2 linked regions of the Homo sapiens genome follow. Each later gene encodes a partner of the first gene's protein in a complex. Links are inferred from orthologs where the notes say so. Each region holds a gene or a part of one and is shown in the gene's direction. Other genes may lie near its edges. The genes, in order: F2RL2 and F2.

The links.
Region 2: the proteins of F2RL2 (region 1) and F2 are in contact, whole or in part, in a crystal structure (PDB 2PUX), measured with the Mus musculus proteins. The link is inferred for Homo sapiens from one-to-one orthologs. Residues at the interface, in NP_034300.3 of Mus musculus: Thr46, Phe47, Glu48, Glu49, Phe50, Pro51, Asp54, Ile55, Glu56; in NP_034298.1 of Mus musculus: Phe379, Gln384, Glu385, Leu386, Leu420, Arg422, Arg428, Thr429, Arg430, Tyr431, Arg433, Lys437, Ile438, Ser439, Met440, Lys467, Pro470.

Annotation. Positions count from the first base shown.
Region 1 is NC_000005.10:76,616,678-76,620,594, reverse strand, and holds part of F2RL2 (proteinase-activated receptor 3 isoform 1 precursor), read left to right. Parts: intron 1-1,952; coding exon 1,953-3,013; 3' UTR 3,014-3,917. UniProt on the Homo sapiens protein: Receptor for activated thrombin coupled to G proteins that stimulate phosphoinositide hydrolysis.
Region 2 is NC_000011.10:46,716,779-46,720,695, forward strand, and holds the start of F2 (prothrombin preproprotein), read left to right. Parts: upstream 1-2,434; 5' UTR 2,435-2,457; coding exon 2,458-2,536; intron 2,537-2,923; coding exon 2,924-3,084; intron 3,085-3,744; coding exon 3,745-3,769; intron 3,770-3,917. UniProt on the Homo sapiens protein: Thrombin, which cleaves bonds after Arg and Lys, converts fibrinogen to fibrin and activates factors V, VII, VIII, XIII, and, in complex with thrombomodulin, protein C. Functions in blood homeostasis, inflammation and wound healing.

The DNA of each region.
Region 1 (3,917 bases):
CCACATCCAGTCTTCTAACCAGTTGCTGGACATTTTACACACTAATATTCCACCAGCAACTCATCCTCAGTCAGACTAAAAACAGATTGTAGCTTCTCCCCGATCCTGTCTCCTTGTCTCCCTCCAACTCAGTTAATGGCATCCTCTCCCTCCAAGTCATCTAGAGTAGAAACCTGAGTCATTATTGCTTCCTGCCTCTCCCTCACTGCACCCCAAAGCCAATCAGAACCAAGTCCCTTTAAGCCGCCATCAGAGTCTCACGTGTTCGCCTCTGCCTTTCCATAACCACTGTTCTAGCTCAGTAACTCACTGAGCTATGAATGATGACAGTAGCCTCCAAATCAGGTCCCCTTGCCTGTAATTTCTTACCTTTCCAATCTGTTCTCTACACTATTACCTAAGTCATCTTAAAAACAAGTCAAAATAACGGCTATATTCGTTTCCTACTGCTGCTATATCAAATCATTACAAACTGAGTGGCTTAAAATAACAGATTATATTTCTGGAGATCAGAGGTCTTAAAATCAAGGCTGTTGGTGGGGTTGTGTTCATTCTCGAGGCTCTAGGAGAGAATCGGCTATCTTGCTTTTTTCAGCTTCTAGAATCTGCCTGCATTCCTTGGGTTATGACCCTTTCTTCCATCTTCAAAGCCAGCAGCATAGCATCTTCAAATCTCTGACTTTGACAACCCTCTTACCTTCCCCTTATATGGACTGTTATGATTATATTTGACCCACCCAGGCAATCCAGGAAAATCTCATTTTAAGATCCTTAACTGGCCGGGCGCGGTGGCTCACGCCTGTAATCCCAGCACTTTGGGTGGCCGAGGCGGGCAGATCACGAGGTCAGGAGATCGAGACCATCCTGGCTAACATGGTGAAACCCTGTCTCTACTAAAAAAATACAAAAAATTAGCCAGGCCTGGTGGCGGGCGCTTGTAGTCCCAGCTACTGGGGAGGCTGAGGCAGGAGAATGGCGTGAACCCGGGAGGCGGAGGTTGCAGTGAGCTGAGATCGTGCCACTGCACTCCAGCCTGGGCGACAGAGTGAGACTGTCTCAAAAAAAAAAAAAAAAAAAAAAGAAGATCCTTAACTAAGTTAGATCTGCAAAATCCCTTTTGCTAGGTAAAGGAATATACTTGTAGGTTCCAGGAATTAGCAGGTAGAATCTTTGCGGGGGGCTACTATTCTGCCTAACACAATGGTCATTCCTCTGTTCAAAATTGTGTGTGCAATCCCATCATCTGTGAATAGACATATGATTTCTTAGGACAGTTTAGAGGCCCTTCAGGAATTTAGCTGTCACCCACTCTTTCAATTTCCTTTCTCAGCTGCACTTTATTCGCATAAGACAATGCATTTTTATGCATCTTCTCCACGAGTAGCATTACTTACAGATAGAAATGGATTTTATTTAAAACTTTACACCACTGACACATCAATGTACAATAAAAATTTGCTAAATCAACTTATCTGGCATTCCCAGATCCCATGATAGCCCACACTATGCTTCTGTCCATTCATCACCAGCAGAATCTTACTCATTAAATTCCATCTTTTTAGGAACCTTGCTAGTCTTTGCTCAAGTTCATCTTTTCCTTGACATTTTGCTCAAACATCTGAATCTATTAAGTATTGTCTGAATGCCTGTATAGTTTGTAGTCAACATGCCTATAATGTTCTGATGGGCTGTTTTTGTTTCTTCTAATAGTATTATAAACACTTTACATACAAGGACTGATCATTTAGTTTTTGTTTCCGCACAAGATAGTGTTGTTCTGGGGCATATGATATGTATTAAATATATGCTTGTTGACTGCCTAATCTACAATAACTTTTTAAAATAAAAATGATCTTAAATTCTACAATCACAGAAATTATTTACAAATAATTAAACACACTTTCTTTTCTCTTGAACTATACATTTATGTTAATACTTTCTTTCAATTACAGGCATGGAAAATGATACAAACAACTTGGCAAAGCCAACCTTACCCATTAAGACCTTTCGTGGAGCTCCCCCAAATTCTTTTGAAGAGTTCCCCTTTTCTGCCTTGGAAGGCTGGACAGGAGCCACGATTACTGTAAAAATTAAGTGCCCTGAAGAAAGTGCTTCACATCTCCATGTGAAAAATGCTACCATGGGGTACCTGACCAGCTCCTTAAGTACTAAACTGATACCTGCCATCTACCTCCTGGTGTTTGTAGTTGGTGTCCCGGCCAATGCTGTGACCCTGTGGATGCTTTTCTTCAGGACCAGATCCATCTGTACCACTGTATTCTACACCAACCTGGCCATTGCAGATTTTCTTTTTTGTGTTACATTGCCCTTTAAGATAGCTTATCATCTCAATGGGAACAACTGGGTATTTGGAGAGGTCCTGTGCCGGGCCACCACAGTCATCTTCTATGGCAACATGTACTGCTCCATTCTGCTCCTTGCCTGCATCAGCATCAACCGCTACCTGGCCATCGTCCATCCTTTCACCTACCGGGGCCTGCCCAAGCACACCTATGCCTTGGTAACATGTGGACTGGTGTGGGCAACAGTTTTCTTATATATGCTGCCATTTTTCATACTGAAGCAGGAATATTATCTTGTTCAGCCAGACATCACCACCTGCCATGATGTTCACAACACTTGCGAGTCCTCATCTCCCTTCCAACTCTATTACTTCATCTCCTTGGCATTCTTTGGATTCTTAATTCCATTTGTGCTTATCATCTACTGCTATGCAGCCATCATCCGGACACTTAATGCATACGATCATAGATGGTTGTGGTATGTTAAGGCGAGTCTCCTCATCCTTGTGATTTTTACCATTTGCTTTGCTCCAAGCAATATTATTCTTATTATTCACCATGCTAACTACTACTACAACAACACTGATGGCTTATATTTTATATATCTCATAGCTTTGTGCCTGGGTAGTCTTAATAGTTGCTTAGATCCATTCCTTTATTTTCTCATGTCAAAAACCAGAAATCACTCCACTGCTTACCTTACAAAATAGTGAAATGATCTTAGAGAACAAGGACAGCCATCACAGAGAACGTCTGTTTTCAAGAACAACATAAGCATAGTGCAAGGAGCTCCATTTCCGAGCTCCTAAGAAATATGCTTCAAAGGTCAAACATTACAAAAGCATTAGTAGTTTGTTTGTTTGTTTTTGAGACTGAGTCTCACTTTATCACCCAGACTGGCGTGCAGTGGCACTATCTTGGCTCATTGCAACCTCTGCCTCCCAGGTCAGCCTCCCAAGTAGCTGGGATTACACCACCATGCCCAGCTACTAAAAATACTTGTATTTTTAGTAGAGACGGGGTTTCACCATGTTGACCAGGCTGGTCTTGAACTCCTGACCTCAAGTGATCTTCCGGCCTCAGCCTCCCAAAGTGCTGGATTACAGGCGTGAGCCACTGAGCCAGCCAGCATTAGTAATTTTTAAAAACACTTTATCAGTATTTTAAAAATGTTAATGCAGGAGAAAAGATATCACAACTCTATGGAAAATGACATTTCCATTTGCCTTATTGCTACTTCAAGCTCTTTAAATCACCATCTTCCCTATTTCTGTGAGTGGTATTGCCATCCTTGACATTTGACATCATTTTTTATTCTTTGGTCTCTTTTGACTCTCATGCTGGTGGCTGCCTCATCAACTGATTCTATCTTTGTAGGGTCCCTCACCAGGGTCTTTTATCTAGTTTCACCTTTGCCTTCTTTTTTCCTTTTTTTAATAGAGACAGTGTCTCGCTTCGTCACCTGGCTGAAGTGCAGTAGCCTGATCATAGCTCACTTCAGCCTCCAACTCCTGGGCTCAAGCAATCCTGCTGTCTCAGCCTCCCAAGTAACTAAGACTACAGGCATGCACCACCATACCCAACTAATTTTATTTTTTATTTTTTGCAGAGATG
Region 2 (3,917 bases), on another chromosome or scaffold:
GTCTGCAAAGAGGCCGGGCAGTGGCTCATACCTGTAATCCCAGCACTTTGGGGGGCCGAGGCAGGTGGATCACCTGAGGTCAGCAGTTCGAGACCAGCCTGACCAACATGGTGAAACCCCATCTCTACTAAAAATACAAAATTAGCTGGGCGTGGTAGTGCATGCTTGTAATCCCTAGCATGCACTTGGGAGCTACTTGGGAGGCTGAGGCAGGAGAATCACTTGTACTCAGGAGGCCGAGGTTGCAGTGAGCTGAGATCACGCCACTGCACTCCTTTCTGGGTGACAGAGTGAGACTCCATCTCAAAAAAACAAAACAAAACAAAACAAAAACAAACAAAAAAACCCAACAGGTAGGTAGCAGTGGTTCACGCCTGTAATCCCCACTTTGGGAGGCTAAAGTGGGCAGATCACCTGAGGTCAGGAGTTCACGTCCAGCCTGGGCAACATGGTGAAACTCTGTCTCTACAAAAATACAAAAATTAGCCAGGCATGATGGCGGGTGCCTGTAGTTCCAGCTATTCGGGAGGCTGAGGCAGGAGAATCGCTTGAACCTAGGAGGTAGAGGTTGCAGTGAGCCGAGTTCACGCTATTGCACTCCAGCCTCCATCTCAAAAACAAAACAACAAAAACCCAAAATATATATTATAATTTTATTTTATTTATTCAATTTTATTTTATTTTATTTTATTTTTCTAGGAACAGGTCTCATTCAGGCCAGGCATGGTGGCTCACGCCTGTAATCCCAGCACTTGGGAGGCCGAGGTGGAGGTGGGCGGATCACCTGAGGTCAGGAGTTCGAGACCATCCTGGTCAATGTGGCGAAACCCCATCTCTACTAAAAATACAAAAATTAGCCAGGTGTGGTGGCACACGCCTGTAATTCCAGCTACTTGGGATACTGAGTCAGGAGAATCACTTGAACAGGGAGATGGAAATTGCAGTGAGCCGAGATTGTTCCACTGCACTCCAGCCTGGGTGACAGGGCGAGACTCCGTCTCAAAAAAAAAAAAAAAAAAGAAAGAAAGAAAGAAAGAAAGAAACAGGATCTTACTCTGTTACCCAGGCTGGAGTACAGTGGTGCAATCATAGCTCACTGCAGCCTGGAACTCCTGGGCTCAAGTGATCCTCCTGCCTCAGCCTCCTCAGTAGCTCAGACTGCAGGCATGCACCACCATTCCCAGCTAATTTTTAATTTTTTTTTGGTAGAGATGAGGGTCTTGCTATGTTGCCCAGGCTGGTCTCAAACTCCTGGCCTCAAGCGATCCTGCCATGTCGGCCTCCCAAAGTGTTGGGATTACAAGTGTGAGCCACTATGCCTGGCCTAAAAATATATATATGAAAATATATAAGAAATGGGCCTCCCAGGAATTAAGGTGTTTGCGGGAGTCCTGGTCCCCAGTTTTTCTGCCAACACTCCCTGTTCCCACACATGACCTGGTCCAGACCCCAAACAGCCAGGCCCAAAGGACAGGTGAGGCGAGGCGAGAACTTGTGCCTCCCCGTGTTCCTGCTCTTTGTCCCTCTGTCCTACTTAGACTAATATTTGCCTTGGGTACTGCAAACAGGAAATGGGGGAGGGACAGGAGTAGGGCGGAGGGTAGGGTAGGACCAGAAGCCTCTCTAGGCCTGCCATGGGGCAGGCAGCCAGGGAGAAGGAGGGCCCCTCAGTGGAGACCCAGGGATTTCAGTAGCCCCTGTTCCGGGACAGGCGCAGGTCCTGGGAGGTGACAGAAGATAGACTAAAGGCCCAAGAGTCCCTGGACCTGACTCCTCCCAGGCAGCTGCCACACACAAACACACCTCCAGGCACCCTGGACAGGAAGGAGGAGAAATGGGCCCCTCCTCCAGTGGCTGAGAAGCTGGGGCAAATGTTGGCTGTTCCTATCCCTGGTGCATCCCATGGCGAGGGGCAACTTCCATCAGGCCACACCTTTTATCTTTGTCTCTATTTTTGATATCTGTGTATTATGATTATACAAACCCCCACATTGGCCTATATGTGCAGATCTGATTAAGAACTTACGATATTCCATGGACATTCCATTCCTAATCTCCTTTAGTCCTCACAACAAAGTATTATTCCCATTGTATAGATGAGGAAACTGAGGCACACAGAGATGACAAGCAACCACCGCTATATGTTAGGATTCGAAGGAGCTCCAGGAAAGTCTCATAGCCCCACTGGCCAGAATGGGCTAAATCTCAGAGGGGGAGGGTGGGAGATGGGGGTGACAGTGACCTTTTTTGTGACTCCTCCTAGACCATCCATCCCTGCTCCCAGGAGGACCTGTCCTCCCAGATGGTGGAGATGGACAGGAGGACTATCTACCCACCCGTCCCCACGGCCCTGACCCTCTGACCTCACCCTCTCCGCTGATTTCTTCATGTTAGTTCAACATTAACCCAGAGGGGTCAGGACAGACAATTCCTCAGTGACCCAGGAGCTGACACACTATGGCGCACGTCCGAGGCTTGCAGCTGCCTGGCTGCCTGGCCCTGGCTGCCCTGTGTAGCCTTGTGCACAGCCAGCATGGTAAGGGAGTGCTTGCAGGCTGGAACAGGCTGGAGGACTGGGGTGTGGGCCCATGGGCTGGGGTCTCCTGGCTGGACAGAGCACACAGAGCTGGCCCCTAAGTAGGTCTCAGCCCCAGGCGGCCAGCTTAGGGAAGAAGTCAGGAGCTCAGGGCTGGAAAGAGAATGGCTGCTTCTCTCTTCCAATATAGGGAGCAGGCTGGGGGCAAGGGGCAGTGTAGGAGGGGCACAGGGGGCCACATTTAGCAGCCTTCCAGGCACTTCCACCAGCCCAGACAGCCTCTCTCAGAAGCCAGCAGGGGAGGGTGGGCTTGCTTCATGCCCCCAGAATGGCCAAGACTGCCTGTTCCTGAGGCCGCTGTCCCATGACCCCCCCACCGCCTTACAGTGTTCCTGGCTCCTCAGCAAGCACGGTCGCTGCTCCAGCGGGTCCGGCGAGCCAACACCTTCTTGGAGGAGGTGCGCAAGGGCAACCTGGAGCGAGAGTGCGTGGAGGAGACGTGCAGCTACGAGGAGGCCTTCGAGGCTCTGGAGTCCTCCACGGCTACGGTGAGCCTGGGCTGCTCGGACGGTGCCGGGGCCTCAGACCGGGCCCAACTCTAGACACTTCCACAGAGAAGCAAGCGAGGAACGCCACAGCCCCTTCGCTGCTCACAGCCTCATTTCAACTCTGAGCCCCTCCTCACAGGGCTGGCAAGAGGAGCGGCCTCAGCCTTTCCTGGGGGTCTCTGTGCCTGGACTGTGTCCCTGTGCAGCTCCATGACATGGGGAGGCCTCCACAGTCTTCAGACATCCACCTGCCCTGGAGCTCTGTGTCCACATGGCCTCCTCAGCGGCAGACTCCCACACCACCCTTGAGGGGTGGGACTCTGGGGAGGCCACCACAAGCCCCCGGGCTCAAGACTCAGTGTTCCTGGAGCTCTGTGTCGCCTTTCCTGTCTGTAGGGCTCTGCCAGGGTCCCACTGCCCCCTCTCCTCCCATCTCCCCCAGCCTCTTTCAGTCTCGGTGTGTGTGTTGGAGGAACTCCCCTATCCTCAAATATTCTTCTCCTTTTGGAAACAAAAGTAGGAAACTCTGCCACAAACCTCCCCAGAGCCTGCCCCCTGCGTGACCAGGGTAAAGGAAAGTGTGAGGAGGAGACATAACATTTACTAAAACAACACAAAACAGGAGCTGCCGTAGCCTCACTCCCAGCCCTTGTTTTTCAGGATGTGTTCTGGGCCAAGTACACAGGTGAGCACCGGGAAGGATTTGCCCCAGGAAGGGAGGCCTGGGGACCCCAGTGAGAGAATTCTACCCAGAGAATCTTCTGCTGCACCTAGCCATCCACCCATCCACCCCTTCCCCACTCCTTCCTTGGTCCCTCCCATCTGTTCATCCA